2 separate regions of the Homo sapiens genome follow, and region 2 is linked to region 1. Evidence: fine-mapped expression QTL. A gene starts in region 1. The other region holds a variant in brackets. All regions are shown on one strand. Distances are from middle to middle. Region 1 holds the start of SRD5A3-AS1 (SRD5A3 antisense RNA 1). Region 2 overlaps SRD5A3 (steroid 5 alpha-reductase 3).

Evidence for each region. PIP is the estimated chance that this variant, and not a neighbour inherited with it, causes the effect.
Region 2: its variant is fine-mapped to the expression of SRD5A3-AS1 in tibial nerve (GTEx, PIP above 0.99).

The regions. Positions count from the first base shown.
Region 1 is chr4:55,380,902-55,391,091 of GRCh38, forward strand. SRD5A3-AS1 (SRD5A3 antisense RNA 1) reads right to left here and starts at 4,679. Exons shown (of 4, transcript NR_037969.1): 1 at 4,644-4,679. LINC02928 (long intergenic non-protein coding RNA 2928) reads left to right here. Exons shown (of 3, transcript XR_941060.4): 2 at 2,016-2,079; 3 at 5,442-7,371.
Region 2 is chr4:55,359,484-55,369,673 of GRCh38, forward strand. SRD5A3 (steroid 5 alpha-reductase 3) reads left to right here. Exons shown (of 5, transcript NM_024592.5): 2 at 1-5; 3 at 4,591-4,788; 4 at 8,105-8,239. It overlaps SRD5A3-AS1 (SRD5A3 antisense RNA 1), which reads right to left. Exons shown (of 4, transcript NR_037969.1): 4 at 7,118-7,680. Among named protein-coding and RNA genes, the nearest start is that of LINC02928, 13 kb to the right of the region's middle. RefSeq lists enhancers at 5,093-5,781, 5,782-6,469. The variant C/T (reference allele first, on the strand shown) is at 5,469.

The sequences.
Region 1 (10,190 bases):
GGGAAAAAATGAAATCCATCACGTGATTCTCTGTATGTGCAAGCAAAACCAGAAGGATTCTCCTTTACCAAACTCAGGAAGTTTATACAGGGCACATTTGTGGAAAGAACACGGAAAACACAATGCTTACTAATGATATTTCTCCTCCTGGATCAGACAAGAAGATCAGATTTTTTATACCAGTTTTGATCAGTTTAATGCCTTATAAAAGGCAAAAAATATAATATATTATATATAATGCCTTATATAATGCCTTATATATAAAAGGACCTTATATAAAAGGACCTGTTTCCAACTCTTTACACGTTACCCTTCTGAAACAGAAGAATAGCAATTTATGTGTTCAACCTAACGTACTTAACATCTGCTATATGGAAGGCACAGAGGTAGGTCCCATGGGGAATACAGGGCTGCATAAGACAAGATTCTTGCTCTCAAAGAGCATTCATTTCAGTATGAAGATGATGTAGATTTATCAACAACCTATTGCTTTAAGTTAAGATCATGGAGGAAATCTGTCAGTGCCCATCATTTCCTCACCACCTTATCCTCTCTTCTACACAAAGCCCAAATCCTGACACCTAATAGACTATCTATAGGACCATATGCTGTGCAGTTGCACTCTCAGAAGGGGCACATGCTTGGTTTAATCCTCTGCTGTTGCTGTCTTGGAATTCTTAGTGATTTTATCTTCGAATTTGTGTTTGGTAAGTGAAGCCAGTGAGACAATGAAGCATGCACATGAGCAGTGGAAACACCCCAGCGGGGAACGCATGCATGTGTGCATGATTCAGGGCAGTCCAGAGTGCAGCTGAGCCAGTACCTGGGCCCAGTTGCAGTGGTGATGGTGGCGGGCAGCAGGAGTAACAGTCAGGACAGCAATGGCTGCGGCTCCAAAGACAGGAAAGGGCTCTGCATATGGACATTGCCAGGACCACCAGTGGGAGACCAGCTCGCCTGTCCCTTGCCAGAGCTTAGCCCCGCATCATCTGCACAAATAGTAACTCTCCATCCTGAGTACTGGGACAGGAACTCATTCTGCTAACTTCTCAGTAAATTAGTACAACATGTATACAATAAAAGTGTATACATGAATATTGTCATAGCATAGCAGGGGGTTATTAGAATTCTTAAAGGATCTAAAATGTCTAGTTTTGAAAACTACTACAACATGGCAAAGCAAATAACCTCAGGCTTAGAAACAGAAATTAAGTTTAAAGATTGTCACATTCTACAGAAAAGAATGCTATTTTCCTAGGAAGTACAAACCAATTGTTTGGCAGAAAGATAATTAAACATGTTTTTTTTCTTATAATTGAAGAGTCAGTGACAGAATACATAAACAGGCCTTATGAATTATATACAAATTATGAAGCCACTTTCAGTTTCTTGTAAGACCTCCACAAGTTTCAGGAAATATTTCCTTATGTCTGCAGAAACATTAAAATATCATTGTGTAAATTTATACTTAAAATTAAATTCAGACTTTTACAGAAAACTGAGTTGTCTAAGGAGTTAAGTCCCTTTAGAAAAATTATTCCACAAGAACCAACAACTCTAGAAGTATTAAAATTTATATTTCAAAATAATTTATCAGAAATTTACCTTAGTGTTGTCACAGTTTATGAAACACTCTTAACAGCTGCATCAGCAGAAAGATCCTTTACGAAATGAAAAATTATCAAAATTTATTTGTGACTTTATATTTCCCAAGACTGGCTGGTGTTGCTTTCAGTCTTATCTATTGGTAAAGAAATTGTATGACATAAATTTCATATCTATTGAAAATGAAAGTGAAATGAAAAGAATAAATTTTGATGAATTTGCAGAAAAGTGAGCCAGAAAAATATAATAGGACATCACATTAATGAATGATTATTGTTTACTGTATTATATAAAATTATGACATCACAATTATTAGTTTAGCAATGTTTAAGTTCATGTAGTTACTCCAGTATCACTATTATCCCATTACATTAGTATCTTTAACTGTACTTTTTTCCTGTTTTTTACAGAGGAGGTCCCATATTTTCGTTTGGCACCAGGCTCAGCGAATTACATAGCCAGCAATGACCACAAGTAAGAGTGTTACAGATTTTTGTTATAAGCCATCATAGTAGACAATGCTTGCCTATGAATGCTTAAGGAGAGTAGAAAAAGAGCAAGAAATGCAAGAAAATGCATGTTCTTAATGTGTGCCATATAAAATCTATCAGGTAATAGGCATTTAATCTATGTTAAGAGTAAAGAAATATAGCCAGGCGCAGTGGCTCACACCTGTAATCCCAGCACTTTGGGAGGCCAAGGCAGGAGGATCACGAGGTCAGGAGTTCAAGACCAGCCTGACCAATATGATGAAACCCTGTCTCTACTAAAAATACAAAAATTACCTGGTCGTGGTGGCACACGCCTGTAGTCCCAGCTACTTGGGAAGCTGAGGCAGGAGAATCACTTGAACCTGGGAGGCAGAGGTTGCAGTGAGCCAGGATTGCACCACTGCACTCTACCCTGGGCGACAGAGAGAGACTCCGTCTCAAAAAAAAAAAAAGAAAGAAAGAAAAAAAGAGTAAATAATACTGTGGGCTATAGTGCAGAATTTGTCATAAGGAAAAATCTGTTTGCATTTAATCCAGGACTGATGTCACAAAGCAATTGGGGACAATGCCTTCAATTGATGCCATTCTCATTAAAATTAGGAGTTTTGGCTGGACACAGTGGCTCATGGCTGTAATCCCAGCATGTGGGGAGGCCAAGGCAGGAGGATTGCTTGAATCCAGGAGTTCAAGACCAGCCTTGGCAATGTAGTGAGACCCTCATCTCTACAAAAAACAGAAAAAAATTAGCTGGGTATGGTGGCACGTACCTATAGTCCCAGCTACTTGGGAGGCTGAGGTAGGAGGATAGCTTGAGCCCGGGAGGTCGAGGCTGATGTGAGCTGTAATCATGCTGCTGCACTCCAGCCTGGGCAACAAGAGGGGACTCTGTTTCAAAAATAATAATAACAATTTAAAAATTATGTGTTTTGCTGTCCAGAGCATAAGTTTGACAGGGATAAACATCCATTCAAATGGGAGTCAAATTCAGGTATCTTATAAATAGCAAGCCTGTTAGATTGTCCTTCTATGAGCATTCTTTGTTTTCAAATATGGAGAACTATTTTTCTAAAGATCAGAGAAATGGCCACCACAATATGGGCCCACCTCATCTATTTTTGGTTTCTTCAAAAATGATGACTCCAATGAACTTTGCAGTAAAAACAAAATGACAATAAAGATGACTTACTTGTGAAAAATAAACAGCAGGGAAAAGCACTGAAGCCAGATAAACCAAATCTGCTTCCCATAAAGTGAAAAAAGATCCACTGAATTATAATTGTTTTTATTTTCATATGATGATTGTTGCATAAAACTAATTTGTTGCTGAATTAAGAAACATAAGACACATATTTACCCTAAATAATTTTAGTTCATCTCCTGGCTTTTAGTGAAATTATCGATTTCTAGGTGATATAATTTGTGTGCCGGCTGGGCAAAGTGGCTCACACCCGTAATCCTAACACTTTGGGAGGTGAAGGCAGGAAGATCACTTGAACCCAGGAGTTCAACACCAGCCTGGGCAATAGGGTGAGACTGTGTCTCTACAAGGAATTTAAAAATTAGCGGGGCATGGTGGTGCACGTGTGTAGTCTCAGCTACTCGGGAGGCTGAGGCAGGAGGATCACTTGACCCTGGGAGTGAGCTGTGATCACGCCACTGCCCTCCAGCCTGCATGAAAGTGTGTCAATGCTTTTTTTTCCTCCTTCTTTTTATTTTTATTTTTTCTTCACTCTGTCACCTAGGCTGGAGGGCAGTGGTGCAATTATACCTCGCTGCAGCCTCTATCTCCTGGGCTTAGGTGATCTTCCTGCCTCAGCCTCCCGAGTAGCAGAGACTACAGGCACATGCCACCATACTCAGCTATTTTTTTTTTAATATTTTGTGGAGATGGAATTTCACCATGTTGCCCAGGCTGATCTCAAATTCCTGAGCTCAAGCAATCTGCCCACCTCAGCCTCCCAAAGTGCCGGGATTGCAGGCATGAGCCACTGTGCCTGGCCCAATGCTTTTAATGGGCCCATTTTAGCCACATTTCTAGTACTTATATTATTCAAATAGACTCAGAAAAGCTGTAAGCCTGTACAGAATTACAGTGTAAGACATCATAAACAATGTTTTAAAAATTAGAAAAACCAATTGCAATACATGTAAGAAAGAAAAAATAAATATTCACAATATATAAACCGCTCTTACAAATCAGTGAAAACACAACTTTACAGCATGACAACTTTGAAAGAGGAACACCAGATAAGAACTGTCTGGGGCGAGCATAGAAGAGTCTCATTCCTCTGTCTGAGTGGTACTGGGTGAGTGGAATGGTTGGTGATTATAGGCTGACAAAGCCCTAGGCTTTTTCTTAGCCCCAGCTCCCTGCCTTCTCCCCTCACTGCCCCCTCCTGTGGGGGCACTACCTAGCAACTGAGGTTTGGGTTTTACAGTGAAAATAATTTTATGAGTCAGAAAGGAGTGAGAAAAGTGTGTTATCAGATAGCATTCCACAGTGGTAAAAGCAAAACAAACAAAAAACAGGACTATTTCTCTACATACTGTCTGGGACTTTGGGACCTTCACTGCAGACCTCTTGTGGCAGTGTATGTGTGATTCCAGTCGTATGGTGGGTATGTGGTTAGGGTATTATTACATCGTAGGTCTATAAAGGGCCAAGCCCCTTGCTCCGACATGCAAAGAAAGGATTGCAAACTGGCAGGCTGCAGGTCATACCGTGCTCATAGACAGCTACTGTTTTGTATGCACAGTTTTTAAAATTGTGAATTAGTGTAATGGTTAATTATATGTGTCAACTTGGTTAGGCTACGGGGCTCAGTTTTTTGTTACAACACTAATAACAATGTGGCTGTGAAGATATTTTGCAGATATAGTTAATATCTACAACCAGTTGACTTTAAGTAAAGGAGTCTACTTTCAATAATGTGGGTAGGCCTCATCTAATTAGTTAAAAGCCTTAAGAGCAAAATCGGAGATTTCCTGGAGAAGGACTTCTGCCCCAGGATTGTAACATAAAAATCTGGCTTGAGTTTCCAGCCTGCTGGTGTTTTCTAAGATTTCAGACTTGTTGTATGCCTCCTACTGGTTCTGTTTCTCTGGAGAACCCTGACTGATATAGTTACTATGACACAGACTATTAATTGCTGACCCCAAGAGCCTTTCTCCCTTTATTCCCTATAGTAAGTGCCTCTGAAATAGAGACTACATTTCCCAGCTTCCCTTGCAATTAGCTGTCACCATGCAGCTAAGTTCTAGCCAATAAGATGTAAGCAGATGTGGTTTGTGGCAGCTCCCTTGAAACATACCTGATGCATACCCTGTGTCTCCTTGTTTTTCCAGCCAGTCCTCCATCCTTCTGCTGGGAACTTGGATGCTAGAGCTCTTGCAGTCACACTGGGCCATGAAGATAAAGGTCACCCCCTAGGAATGATAGAGCAGAAAGCTGGAAGGAACCTGGGTCCCTGATCTCTGTGGAGCCACTGAACTGCCTCTAATGAAGGAAAACATTTCTCTCATTTATGCTGCATGTTCTTTTCGATTTTATGTTATATTTAGTGGAGTATAATCCTAATTTGATACAATTGCCAACTTTTAAAAATCAGGAAATTTCACACAAATATTCAGCTCTCTGGCTTTTCTCTTGAAAATTTGGTACATCTGACAAAACATGAAGTCATGCTTCCCATTGCAGCAACTGACCTGGGCAGGATAATGGATGCCTGCTTCAGACAGGGATGGAGACCTCACCAATTTTTTTTCCTTCATTTTAATTGGGAAGTGGGGCAAGATGGAAAAATTGTGGATGCCAACTTTGTAACTTTGTCTTTCTCCCTGCATCATTTTTAGCAAGAACATTTCGACACTGGTGTAGTCCACAAGGGAAGATACTGAGAGAGGAGAAAGGAAGAAACCTTTCAGGCATCAGTTAGGGTGGGTCCTTGGTTAAATTCTTTCAAACAAAAGAACAGCCTGAAAAATCAAGCTGCAGGCACAGATAAGGGGATCTGCACAGGTGGCCTTGACTAAGACATTCCCACAGCCACACAGATATGAAAGCCTACCCAGATGACTTGCCCAGATACTTCTGCAGTGGAAAATTCCATCCCCTGACACATGCGCAGTAAGGGGAAAAAAGCAATATGGAATAAAACTTAAGCTAAGGGCCCACATGCACACTAGAAGGATGAGGTGGAGCTACCAGAAATTCATGCCTTATGCAAATGAGATGCCCAGCCCTCACCGGTTCTTATAAAAGCCTTTGCAGTCACCTGTAAAAGCAGCAACCCTCCTCCAGGTCCCCTCTCCACTGTGGAGAGCTTTCTTCTTTTGCTTATTAAACTTTCGCTGCAACTTCATCCTTTGCATCCACGCTCCTTAATTTTCTTGGTCATGAGACGAAGAACTCCAGGTGATACCTCACCTGCTACATTATGGAGAGACTGCTACATTATGGTGCACTGGTGAAAATATAACATTTCTGATGGTGGTGGAAGCAGAGGCCATCCTTTGCTGTTTCATGCCCAATTCTGTAGGCCTGCCTCAGAGAGAAGGGGAGCACAGGTCTCAGCATCCACAGACTTTTCATGGCGGTGAAGCTCTACTATCAACACTTGGAAAGAGGGAATCAGAGGGTCTTCTACTCCATGGCTGCAACTTTTTCTCATTTTAAAGATCCTCCTCTAGTCTAATGGATTTATATTTCTCTGGCTGACGTAATTTTGACCCTACTTCTTGGTAATACCCGAGCCTTAATTTGATGAAAGAGTATCACTCCCACCTAATTTCCAACCACCTCTCTGCCCTGAGTAGCTTCATCAAAATTCACACCTTGCTTGACAATGGAGAGAAGATTTCGCCTAACCTGGGGGAGGATGGAGGGGATGGAGGGTATAGCCTCAGTTGCTGTCAGACCTAAACCAGACTTGGCAATAATTGGGGGAGGTGGAGTGCCCTGGGTTGAAGGAGTCTTGGTGAGTTAAACACCCATTATTGTCTTTGGCTGTAAATGAACTCAAGGTCACTAGGAAGTGAGTGGAAAGTCAGATGAACTCTGTCTCTCAGAGGCAGGCCAAGGGCAAAGAAGGCACAGAAGCCACTTCAAAACTTTCAGGCCTTTTGGGAGGAAAGGGTGGGTATGGAATGAGGCTGACTTTCAAAGATGAAGCTGTGACAGATCAGAAATCTGTATTTTTGAGCCAGACTATGTCTGTGTCTAGGTTTGCCTTTGTCTTTTTGTTGTCAGAATTTCATTAAACTAATTATTCATTCATGTATGAGTGTCTTCTACAGCCAGGAACTCTTTAGACAAGATTCTGGCCCTGATGACACTTACGTTTTAGTTGCCAATACAGATAATAAATATAAGAAGTAAACAAAGGCCGGGCATGCTGGCTCACACCTGTAATCCCAGCACTTTAGGAGGCTGAGGAGGTCAGATCATTTGAGGTCAGGAGTTCAAGACCAGCCTGGCCAGTATGGTGAAATCCTGTCTTTACTAAAAATACAAAAAAAAAAAAAAAAAAAAAAGAGCTGGCATGATGGCACATGCCTGTAATCCCAGCTACTCGGGAGGCTGAGGCATGAGAATTGCTTGAACCCAGCAGGCAGAGGTTGCAGTAAGCTGAGATTGCACCATTGCACTCCAGCCTGGGTGACAGAATGCGACCCTGTCTCAAAAAACAAAAAACAGGCTGGGCACAGTGGCTCATGCCTGTAATCCCAGCACTTTGGGAGGCCGAGGTGGGCGGATCACTTGAGGCCAGGAGTTCAAGACCAGCCTGGCCAACATGGTGAAACCCCGTCTCTACTAAAAATACAAAAGTTAGCTGGGCACAGTGGTGCGTGCCTGTAATCCCAGCTACTCGGGAGGCTGAGGGAGGAGAACTGCTCAACTGGGACTTGGGAGGCAGAGGTTGCAGTGAGTGGAGATCACGACACTGCACTCCAGCCTGGGCTACAGAGTGAGACTCTGTCTTGAAAAACAAAACAAAACAAAAAAAGAAGTAAACAATTAGATAATCAGCCTGGGCTACAGAGTGAGACTGTCTTGAAAAACAAAACAAAACAAAAAAAGAAGTAAACAATTAGATAATCAAGATGGCCAGGTGTGGTGGCTCACACCTTTATCCCAGCACTTCAGGAGGCCAAGATGGGCAGATCACTTGAGGTCAAGAGTTTGAGACTGGCCTGGCCAACATGGCGAAACCCTGTCTCTATTAAAAATACAAAAATTAGCCAGGCGTGGTGGCATATGCCTGTAGTCCCAGCTACTCAGGAGGCTGAGGCAGGAGAATCGCTTGAACCCAGGAGGAAGAGGTTGCAGTGAGCCGAGATCGTACCACTGCACTCCAGCCTGGGCAACAGAGCAAGACTCTGTCTCAAAAAAAAAAAAAAAAAAGATAATTTCAGATAGTGATAAGTGCTATGAAAAAACTTTCAAAAATCCCCAAACTTAAAAAGAACCAACAATGAGACAGAGTGACAAGGGTGAATGGAAGAGTCTATTTTAGATGGGTGGTCTGGGAAGGCTGCTCTTGAGGAAGTGAACTTTAACCTAAATGACCAGAATAAGACCTAAAAAAAAAAAAAAAAAAAAAAAAGAGTGTTCTCAGAAGAGAAAACCAGAAGTATGAAGAGTCTGAGGTGGAAATAAGCTCTTGGTTGGGCATGGCACATGAGGTGGAGAAAGCCAAGAGACAAGGTCACACAGGGAGGCAGGGGTAGCTCACATTAAACTTTCTTTTCTTTTTTTTTTTTTTGTTTTGAGACAGAGTTTCACTCTTGACACCCAGGCTGGAATGCAATGGCGTAATCTTGGCTCACTGCAACCTCTGCCTCCTGGGTTCAAGCGATTCTCCTGCATCAGCCTCCCGAGTAACTGGGATTACAGGCGCCTGCCACCACACCCAGCTAATTTTTGTATTTTTAGTAGAGATGGGTTTTTGCCATGTTGGCCAGGCTGGTCTCGAACTCCTGAGCTCAGGTTATCCACCTGCCTCAGCCTCCCAAAGTGCTGGGATTACAGGTGTGAGCCAACGCACCCAGCCGAGCTCACATTAAACTTTCATTCAGAGATTGTTTTATCTTTATTCTCTGCCCATTTAGAAGTCATTACTTTTAAGCAGTGGAATGAAATTATTTTAATTTTGAAAGCTCATTCTGGCTGCTGGTTAGATTCTAGATTGGCAGAGGCAGGGAGACCAATTAGGAGCCCATTTAATTGTCCAGGTGAGAAATGACACCTGGTTTGTACAAGGTGGTAACAGTGGAGATAGAGGTGAACAGATTCAGATAGATTTTAAAATTAGAGACAAAATTTGCTGGTGGATTGGATGTGGGGTATGGGGAATCTAATGGAGTAATCTAATATGGTGGATGTTGGTTCCATTTACTAAGATGGAAAGCCTGAAGGAGGAACAGGTTTTTGGAGGGACATCAAAAGACCTGTTTTGCCCTTGCTCTGTTGGAAATGCCTGTGAAACATCCAGAAGGTGATGCAAGGAAAGAGTTGGATAAATGAACCTGGAGCATGTATTTAGCATTCTTTTTGGAATTTTCAGCCTGCTTGTGGAAACCTAGGAAAGCCCAAGAATGTAGGGAAACAGCTGCCCTCCCTTTCCCCTGCACCAGCAGAGTTCGCATACAAGGGTCCAGATCCCCATCATTTAAAGGGGTTTAGCAAGCTGATGGGTAGCAGTGTGCTTCGTTTCATGAGCTTTAAAGAGTTGAGAAGGTCAAGCAAGTTGCATATTGCTATTCGTCATTCACTTACATTTGCTGAGTGCTTTAATTTTTTTTTTTTTTTTTGAGACAGAGTCTTGCTCTGTTGCCCAGGCTGGAGTGCAGTGGTGTGATCTCAGTTCACTGCAACCTCCACCTCCCGGGTTCAAGCCATCTCCTGCCTCAGCCTCCCAAGTAGCAGGGACCACAGGCACACGGCACCACACCCAGCTAATTTTTGTATGTTCAGTAGAGATAGGGTTTCACCACATTGGTCAGGCTGGTCTCAAACTGCTGACCTCAGGTGATCCAGCTGCCTCGGCCTCCCAAAGTGCTGGGATTACAGGTGTGAGCCACCGTGCCCAGCCT
Region 2 (10,190 bases), 21 kb before region 1:
CCAGGGTAAGGACTCCCTGGGCTTATGACAACGCTGCATCCCGTTTCTGTTGTTCCTGTCTGCAAGGGAGCAGTTTTTGGCATTTTGTCTCCTCTCTCGGCACCTCCTCAGAAGGGCCTGGGAAGTGGAGGATGAGGGCAAAAAAGAGCTTTGCACGGTTCATTGCCGGATGGCCAAAAGGATGTCCCTAAGCCCTTCCCTGAGAAGGAGACAGAGCCAAGAGTTAGCGCTCCTGACTTCCCAGCAAGTGCTGTGTTGTGTGCAGAACTGGCTGCCCTCCCTCTGGTATTTTTAGTACTGTTGATAAATTTATGAAGAAGTCTTTACACAAAAGGGGGAAAGCTTTTAGGATCTGTCAGGTTTGTCTGGAAACATTTATCATTTATACTGTTCCAACCAAACTCATGACTTAGAACTCCAGAAATGTGATTTAAAAATTACTTTTTCTGTCGGGTGCGGTGGCTCACGCCTGTAATCCCAGCACTTTGGGAGGCCAAGGCGGGCAGATCACAAGGTCAGGAGATCGAGACCATCCTGGCTAACACGGTGAAACCCTGTCTCTACTAAAAATACAAAAAAAAGTTAGCTGGGCATGGTGGCGGGCACCTGTAGCCCCAGCTACTCGGGAGGCTGAGGCAGGAGAATGGCATGAACCCGAGAGGCGGAGCTTGCAGTGAGCTGAGATCGGGCCACTGCACTCCAGCCTGGGCAACAGAGCGAGACTGTGTTTCAAAAAAAAAAAAAATTACTTTTTAATTCATACCTGTAATCCCAGCACTTTGGGAGGCCAAGGCAGGCAGATCACTTGAGATCAGGAGTTCAAGACCAGCCTGGCCAATGTGGTGAAACCCCAACTCTACTAAAAATACAAAAATAGCTGGGTGTGGTGGCAGGCGCTTGTAATCCCAGCTACTCGGGAGGCTGAGGCAGGAGAATCGCTTGAACCTGGGAGGCGGAGGTTGCCATGAGCTAAGATTGAGCTACTGCACTCCACGCCTGGGCAACAGAGGGAGACTTTGTCTCAAAAAAATAAATAAATAAATGAATAAAATAAATAAAAATTACTTTTTGATAAACATGGAAAAAAAGTTATGCTGTGAGGCTTTGGTAGTATAATAAAATTGACTAAACAGTTGTTGAACAGACGATTACAAAATAGCCTTTAAGTTTGCCATCCTCAGCATCAGGATGAAGAATATGGAACGTTTTTTTTTTTTTTTCTGAGATGGAGTTTCGCTCTTATTGCCCGGGCTGGAGTGCAATGGTGCAATCTTGGCTCACTGCAACCTCTGCCTCCCAGGTTCAAGCGATTCTCCTGCCTCAGCCTCCCAAGTAGCTGGGATTACAGCCATGTGCCACCACGCCCAGCTAATTTTGTATTTTTGGTAGAGAGATGGTGTTTCTCCATGTTGGTCAGGCTGGTCTCGAATTCCTGACCTCAGGTGATCCACCCGCATTGGCCTCCCAAAGCGCTGGGATTACAGGTGTGAGCCACCGCGCCCGGCCAGAACAGTTTTTAAAATAAAGAATTGAAGGTGAAAACTATGAAATGTCCTCAATTAAGGTCAGGCAGAGTGTGAGGGGCAGAATTAGAAACAAATTGTTCTAGTCTCATCTCTGTCCTTTGTTCCAGTGGCCAAACCACCTAGAAACAATCCTTTTCTGTATAACCAGATAAACTGGTTGCAAAAGATGACAATCAGAAGAGCAAACCCCGGCCGGGTGTGGTGGTTCATGCCTCTCATCCCAGCACTTCAGGAGGCTGAGGTGAGCAGATCACTTGAGGTCAAGAATTCAAGACCACCTTGGCCAACATGGTGAAATCCCGTTTTTACTAAAAATACAAAACTTAGCTGGGTGTGCTGGCACATGCCTGTAACCCCAGCTACTCGGTAGGCTGAGGAGAGAGAATTGCTTGAACCCAAGAGGCAGAGGTTGCAGTGAGCCAAGATTGTAACGTTGCACTCTAGCCTAAGAGGACAGAGCAAGACTCCGTCTCAAAAAAAAAAAAAAAAAAAAGAGCAAACCCTGCCGGGAACAGTGGGCAGTGACTCATACCTATAACCCCAGCACTTTGGGAGGCTGAAGCAGGTGGATCACTTGAGGTCAGGAGTTCAAGACCAGCCTGGCCAACATGGTGAAACCCCCGTCTCTACTAAAAATACAAAAAATTAGCGGGACGTGGTGGCGCGTGCCTGTAATCCCACTTACTCAGGAGGCTGAGGCAGGAGAATGGCTTGAACCCAGGAAGCAAAGGTTGCAGTAAGCTGAGATCATGCCACTGCACTCCAGCCTGTGCCACAGAGTGAGACTCCATCTAAAAAAAAAGAGCAAACCCGTGGACATCCTCTTTGGAAGGGTAGGCTACATCAGCGGATCTCACTCCACTCGTTAAAACTTCATCTCTTCGTTTGTTTACTGTGAGACTGACTGGGGTGTTTTGGTATTTGGAGGGTTGGTTGTGAGGATATGAGGAATTCTATTTGTTTGCTTTAACTTGTTCCTAAGGAGTTAAAACTAAGTTTTAGTTCATTTAAAATACAAAAACAGTCAAAGCTAATCTGTGCTGATAGGGGTTGTTCCCCATGGGAAGTTTGGGGGAGGGGTCGTGCCTACACTAGGGGGTGCTGTTCGTGTTCTGTTTCTTCTTTTTTTTTTTTTTGAGATGGAGCCTTGCTCTGTTGCCCAGGCTGGAGTGCAGTGGCCTGATCTCAGCTCACCACAACCTACCCCTCCCGGGTTCAAGCGATTCTCCTGCCTCAGCCTCCTGAGTAGCTGGGACTACAGGCATGCGCCACCATGCCCGGCTAATTTTTGTATTTTTAGTAGAGACAGGGTTTCACTCTGTTGGCCAGGCTGGTCTTGAACTCCTGACCTTGTGATCCGCCTGCCTCAGCCTCTCAAAGTGCTGGGATTACAGGCATGAGCCACCGCATCCAGCCTGTTTCTTTTGTTTGTTTCATTTTTTTCTTTCTTTTTCTTTTTTTAAGAGAGAGGGTCTCACTCTGTTGTACAGGCTGGAGTGCCGTGGCATGATCATAGCTCACTGCAGCCTTTAACTCCTGGGCTCGAGCAGTCCTCCCTCCTCCACCTCTTGAGTAGTTGGGACTACAGGTGCACGCCACTATGCCCAGCTAATTTTTTTTTTAATGTTTTTAGAGATGGGGTACCTGCTGTGTTGCCCAGGCTGGTCTCAAACTCCTGGTCTCAAGCGATCCTCCAACCTCAGCTTCCTAAAGTGTTCTGTTTCTGGATCTGGGTGCTGTTACATGGGTGGGATTGGTTGGCTTAATTTGTAAAAGTTAATTAAGTTGCATCTTTATGGTGTGCATGCGTGTGTGTGTGTTTGTGTGTGAGACTTTTTTTTTTTTTTTTTTAATGGAGACAGAGTCTTGCTCTATCTCCCAGGCTGATTGCAGTGGCCCAATCTTGGCTCACTGCAACCTCCACCTCCCAGGTTCAAGCAGTTCTACTACCTCAGCCTGCCAAGTAGCTGGTTCTACAGGCGCACACCACCATGCCTGGCTAATTTTTTGTATTTTTAGTAGAGACAGGGTTTCACCATGTTGCCCAGGCTGGTCTCGAACTCCTGAGCTCAGGCAATCCACCCGCCTCCAACTCCCAAAGTGGTAGGATTACAGGCATGAGCCATCGCCCCCGGCCGTGACTCATTTCTTTTTTAAGTGACTGGGCGTGGTATCTCACACCTAAAATCCCAGCACTTTGGGAGGCTGAGGCTGGAGGATGGCTTGAGGCCCGGAGTTCGAGACCAGCCTGGGCAACAAAAAAAATTTTTTTTTAATTAGTCAGGTGTGGTGGCACATGACTATAGTTCTAGCCACTCAGGAAGCTGAGACAGAGGATCACTTGAGCTCAGGAGTTCAAAGCTGCAGTGAGGCCTGACTGTGCCACTGCACTCTAGCCTGGGTGACAGAGCAAGACCCTGTCTCAAAAATAAAGAAGTTGACACATAAAATTAACCAAAAAATAAAAAACAAAAAAGAAAAAAAGAGAAACTAAGTGTGTGTTTTTTTAAAGCCAGCTTTTCTTCAGATTTTTTGGTGGGCAGGTCGTGAAAGACAGGTGAGGAAGTAGATCTTGGGCTCAGCATGCCTCTAAAAGTATAATTTCTTTTTTTTAATGTGGAAAGAAATGCATAACTCTGTTTCTGTTCCTGTCCCCCTCTCTGCCTCTGTGATGCCTGAGATACTGGGGATCCCACAGCTGGGGCCACTCAGAGGCTACCAGGAACGCTTCCAGTTTGCATCTGGCTGTTAGTGCCAGGACCAGAAACCCACAGACCTCTTCACAGACCTCCTGACCGTGATGTCCCTGAAGCCTGGAAGGCTGTCACACAATGAAGCAGAATTGAGTGATGGGTGTTTGTGAACCCAGTGAACTGTGTAACACAGTGAACTGTGTAATTTGAGTGAAGTCAAATTCCTTGACTTCATTTGGCCCATTTCTTCCTTACTACCAAAAAGAAAGATGTTAGATGGGATTTAATACTTTGCTTAACAGTACAGAAAAACAAAACTTTGGATTAATCCCAGAAGAGAAATGCTGACCCTGTTGCCTTCTGAATTGTAGGAGGGGAGCTGGCACTGTCTGCATTCTTAGTGCTAGTATTTCTGTGGCTGCACAGCTTACGAAGACTCTTCGAGTGCCTCTACGTCAGTGTCTTCTCCAATGTCATGATTCACGTCGTGCAGTACTGTTTTGGACTTGTCTATTATGTCCTTGTTGGCCTAACTGTGCTGAGCCAAGTGCCAATGGATGGCAGGAATGGTGAGTGGATCCAGCCCTGCCAGGAGCTCCCCACCCCAGGGTGTATGATGCGCTCTCGGGGCTTGTGCTGTGCTAAGCATTATGAGACATGCAGAAGTAAGAGACAGGCCCAATGCATTTTGCATTTCAGGAGATGAGACTCAAGTCGATTTTAAAAGGCCGGGCGTGGTCGCTTACACCTGTAATCCCACCACTTTGGGAGGCTGAGGCAGGTGGATCACTTGAGGCCAGGAGTTCGAGACCAGCCTGGCCAACATGGTGAAACTCTGTCTCTACTAAAAATTAAAAAAAAAAATTAGCCAGGCGTGGTGGCACACGCCTGTAGTCCCAGCTACTGGGGAGGCTGAGGCAGGAGAATTGCTTGAAACCAGAAGGTGGAGGTTGCAGTGAGCCGAGATCGCGCTACTGCACTCCAGCCTGGGCAACAGAGCGAGACTCCATCTCAAAAAAAAAGAAAAGAAAATGAGGGAAGGGAGAGTGCTTGCATGGAGTTGGGATTTGCAGAGGGGGTGGGGAGCCATTTTGTTGCCGCTTAGTTCCTGTGATTGTTCCCATCACAATAGAGCTTTTCTTCAAGTGACGCTGCCTGAGAGGAGAGGACAAAGAGTACTGTGGTAGTGAAAATTGTGTTTTAGTCTCTAAGCTCTCACTAGCCAGGAAGAGGGGAGCCAAACCATGAC[C/T]TTGTTTACGAGAAGGAAATGAAATGGATTTTTTGTTTTATGGGGGGAGGAGGGGACATTACCTAACACATATGACTACCATTTTTGTAAAAACAATGCATGATTATAAAGAATTCAAGTCGCTTGGGGTGATGGGAATGAGTTTATAGTGCTGAGGTTAACCTGACCTTGCAGCCTTAGTATCTGTCAGTCTAGACCCCGTAGGTCTGTAATGACCATTGTCTCTAAACCCAGGGCTCCATGTTTTCAGCTGCCCTGTCCATCCTTGTAAACTCAGGCTGAGGTCTAGCGATTTCCAACAATCTGTGAGTGAGCTTCCTCCTCAGGTTAGATTTTGGTATGAGTGCCCCGTGAAAGTCGTCTCTCTGTTGCTGTAGCTCAACCTAAGGCCTCTGACTAGAGGAGTGATTTTAAAGGATTTATTGACGATCTTTCTCAATTCATGAATTATTGATTGGCTCCAGCCACTTAGCTAGCATCTCTCTGATTCCTCTGAACTTATTCCTCCCAGGCATGTCTGTGGTGGCATTCTGCCAGCCAGTACCATGGAAGGGGCTGTCATTCCTGGTGGGCAGTGCTGGTTCTCCCCCTAAAGGAACTTTGCAGAGCGCTTGGTGACTGCTAGCTTTTAGCGTGTTCTTGTTTGTTGGCGTTACCTGCCTCTCCCGGAGTTTCCTCTACTGGCTGCGTCTCAACTTCTGCCTTCCCTCCTGCGTAGATAGTCAAGGAAGAGGAGCCCACAAAAATAGCTTTCTAAGCACTCCTTTCTGAAGCTGTTTTCTGTTTCACCTCCTTGTCCTTCAAGGGTCATCTGGGATCATTTAGGACAATATGGGGAAAGTTGGTTTCAGTAATTCATTGAGAGAAAACACATTGGGGCATTTGCCAACCAAAGGGCGTGATAGAAATAACATGGGCTCCAGAGTCTTGATGGGCCTGCATCTGGCTCATTGAGCTTCTCTGAGCCTCACAGCCTTCATTAGTAATTATTGACACATACTGATTTCACAGGGTTCTTCTTAAAGTGAAAAGAAGACTATCTGTAAACTAGGATGTAAGCTCTATAAGGACTGGGATCTTGCCTGACTTATTCCCTGCTTTATCCTTTGTGCCTTCAGCAGGGCCAGGCTTAGGAGGCACTCCTTAAGTAACTAATGAATAAACAAATAATTAAATACTGAGTAGAACTGAGGAAATGTGAGCCTTCCACCTGCCTCCCTTTTCCTGCATTATAATTCTGGCGTTACCCTTAACAAATCCTTTTTCCTGTAGGTAAACTCTCTGCATTTAGCATAAGGGACTTAGTGATTTGAACTTCCAGACACTGTAACTTTTCATCCTGTTGACTTGCTCTTGAAGCCTGTCAGATTTAAAACTGTATTTTTAATATTTTGCTTATTTCATTTTTGTAGAGACAGGTTCTCGCTATGTTGGCAGGCTGGTCTCAAACCCCTGGCCTCAAGTGATCCTCCTGCCTTGGCCCCCGCAAAGTGCTGGGATTACAGGTGTGAGCCACTGTACCCAGCCTGTTTTGAACTTATAAAAATATAACCTAGTAGTTAAATGGCTAAACTTGTAAACACTAAAAGACTATAGTAGATTGATTATATAAAACAAGCTTTTAAAATAAACTGACACAGGTAGACCGGTGGATTTTCATCAGTCCTTTACTATCATTAACGGATTCCTGCTTCGAGGTGGCCATGTGGAATTGCATGATCCTTGGTTCTCTTACTTGAATCAGCTTTTTAGGGTTCCCCCTTGGCTCCAGAGCCTCAGGCTCTTGCCCATTATCAGTGGATACATTTGTTTCTTCAGTCAAGCCTCCGACTAGGCTAACTGCTTCCTGCTGCGCAGAGGGAAGTCCCTGTTTGCTTTTCTGAAGCCAGTGGTTTGCTCCGCAGGTCCTCAGAAGGTCTGTGTTTTTCCCTTCTTCCTAGCAGCCGGAGAAGAAAGTGGAAGATGATGCTTTGAGTGTTTCCACTCCTGAAACTCAGTCTCTCGACTGTTCTTTCTCATCCAGACCTGGATGGCATTGAGTTGTTCATCTTGCAGTTTACTGTCCCTCTCTTTTGAGAAAGCCCCCTGGTAGCCTTTCCACTGGTGATTTCTTTCATTGACCAGAGCTAGTCAAGTCAGCATTCTGCTTTCAGGCTCTCCCTAGCAGGATGGTAGCTCAGAGAGAGATTTCCTTAGAAAGTGTTTTTCTTCACTGTAAAACATAAGAAAGAAGACTTAAAACTGGACTTAGCAAGGGAAACACAAAGGAATCTTACCATTCGAAAGTAGATCACAGTAGGGGAGCTGAACTTTGTGCTTGAACTGTTTAGAGAAGAAGCAAGAGAATGTGTCTGTGTGGAATTCTCTTGCCAGGGGAACTGAAGCTGCCCATAGCTGAGGAACGTATCTCCTTTGTCCAGAGAGACAGGGCTTTTCCCTCTGTATTGGGAAATTACATCAGGAAATTACATCGGGATATTGAGGAACAGGTTCCCCTCTTTGTACTTGGGAAATTATATTAGGATATTGAGGAACGGAATAAGTGGATAATTGTGTTTCTGCTGACTAAATGATTTGTTTAATTCCCTGAGCCTGTGAAATTGTTTAGTGTTGGCTAACAATTCTCATTCCTATAGCCTACATAACAGGGAAAAATCTATTGATGCAAGCACGGTGGTTCCATATTCTTGGGATGATGATGTTCATCTGGTCATCTGCCCATCAGTATAAGTGCCATGTTATTCTCGGCAATCTCAGGAAAAATAAAGCAGGTGAGACCTCTTTTAGAGCCTCTGCATATGGATTTTAACCCTCAGAAGTTAGTTCTCCATGGTCCTGCATGCTTTTCCTTCCTGCCCTAGTTAGTTGACTGTATCAAATATTGATTTTTGGCAAGACACTTCTCTGGGCCTTGATCTTCCCATCTGTGAAAATGAGAGCCTTACATTGAAAGACCTCTCTAGACCCAAGTAGCCCTGACATTCTGTGATTCTACGTTTTGTGTCTGATCAGCATGTGAGAGCTAGTGTTACCATGGAGTTAGTACCAGCCACAGCATAAAAACTTGACCTTTAAGTTAGCTTGTGTTGACTTATCACAGGTATAGTTTCCATTAGGTTTTTTGAAATATTAAAAATTGAATAGGCCAGGCGCAGTGGCTCACGCCTGTAATTCCAGCACTTTGGGAAGCCAAGGTAGGAGGATCACTTGAGGTCAGGAGTTCAAGACCAGCCTGACCAACATGGCAAAACCCCGTCTCTTCTAAAAATACAAAACTTAGCTGGGTGCGGTGGTGCAGGTGCCTGTAGTCCCAGCTACTTGGGAGGCTGAGGCACTAGAATCACTTGAACCTGGGAGGCGGAGGTTGCAGTGAGCTGAGATCACGCCACTGCGCTCCAGCTTGGGTGACAGAGCTAGACTGTCTCAAAAAAAAAAATTGAATAGTTTTATTTATTTATTTATTTATTTATTTATTTATTTATTTAATTTTTGAGATGGAGTCTTGCTCTGTTACCCAAGCTGTAGTGCAGTGGCACAATCTCGGCTCACTGCAACCTCCGCCTCCAGGGTTCAAGTGATTCTCCCGCCTCAGCCTCTCAAGTAGCTGGGACTACAGGTGCGCACCACTATGCCCAGCTAATTTTTGTATTTTTTAGTACAGACAAGGTTTTGCCATGTTAGCCAGGGTGGTCTCGAAATCCTGACCTCAGGTGATCCACCCACCTCGGCCTCCCAAAGTGCTGGGATTACAGGCGTGCACCACTACACCCGGCCTATTATTTATTTATTTTATTTATTTATTTTTGAGACAGAGTCTCACTCTGTCACCCAGGCTGGAGTGCAGTGGCACCATCTCAGCTCACTGCAACCTCCGCTTCCTGGATCCAAGCAATTCTCATGCCTCAGCCTCCCAAGTAGTTGGGATTACAGGCGTGTGCCACCACATCTGGCTAATTTTTATATTTTTAGTAGAGCTGGGGTTTCACCATGTTGGCCAGGCTGGTTTTGAACTCCTGACCTCAGGTGATCCGCCCACCTCAGTCTCCCAAAGTGCTAGGATTACAAGCATAAGCTACCGCGCCCAGCCAAAAAACTGAATAGTTTTAATATTTATCAAGTACTTATTTTGTCCCAGGCCCTGTTCTGAGTGCTTTACATATAGCTTCACAATGCCGACATGAGATGACTACAGTCCGGTCTTCATTTTACAGATGAGGAAACTAAGGCACAAAGAGGTTAAGCAACTTATCTAAAGTTACACAGCTAGTAAGTGGGAGAGCCAGGATTTAAACTTGTGCAGTCTGACTCTGGAGTAGTCTGAGCTCTTAATTACTAGCTTGGAGGATTGCTGGAGTAACTGGCTTTTCTCTTGTGCTATGGACAGTTGACAATTTAACCTAAGCATATAACTTTTCAATATGTAATTGACAGTAGAAGTGTGACAGGATGGTGGTTTACACACATGTATGATACTCTTTTCTAAATAAGAGTTTCTGGGCTGGGCAGGTTGGCTCACACTGGTAATCCCAGCACTTTAGGAGGCTGAGGTGGGAGGATCACTTGAGCCCAGCAGTTTGAGACCAACCTGGGCAACATAGGCAGACCCTGTCTCTACAAAAAATTCAAAAAATGAGCCAGGCATGGTGATGCATACCTGTGGTACTAGCCACTGGGCAGTTTGAGATGGGAGGATTGCCTGGGCCTGGAAGGTTGAGACTACAG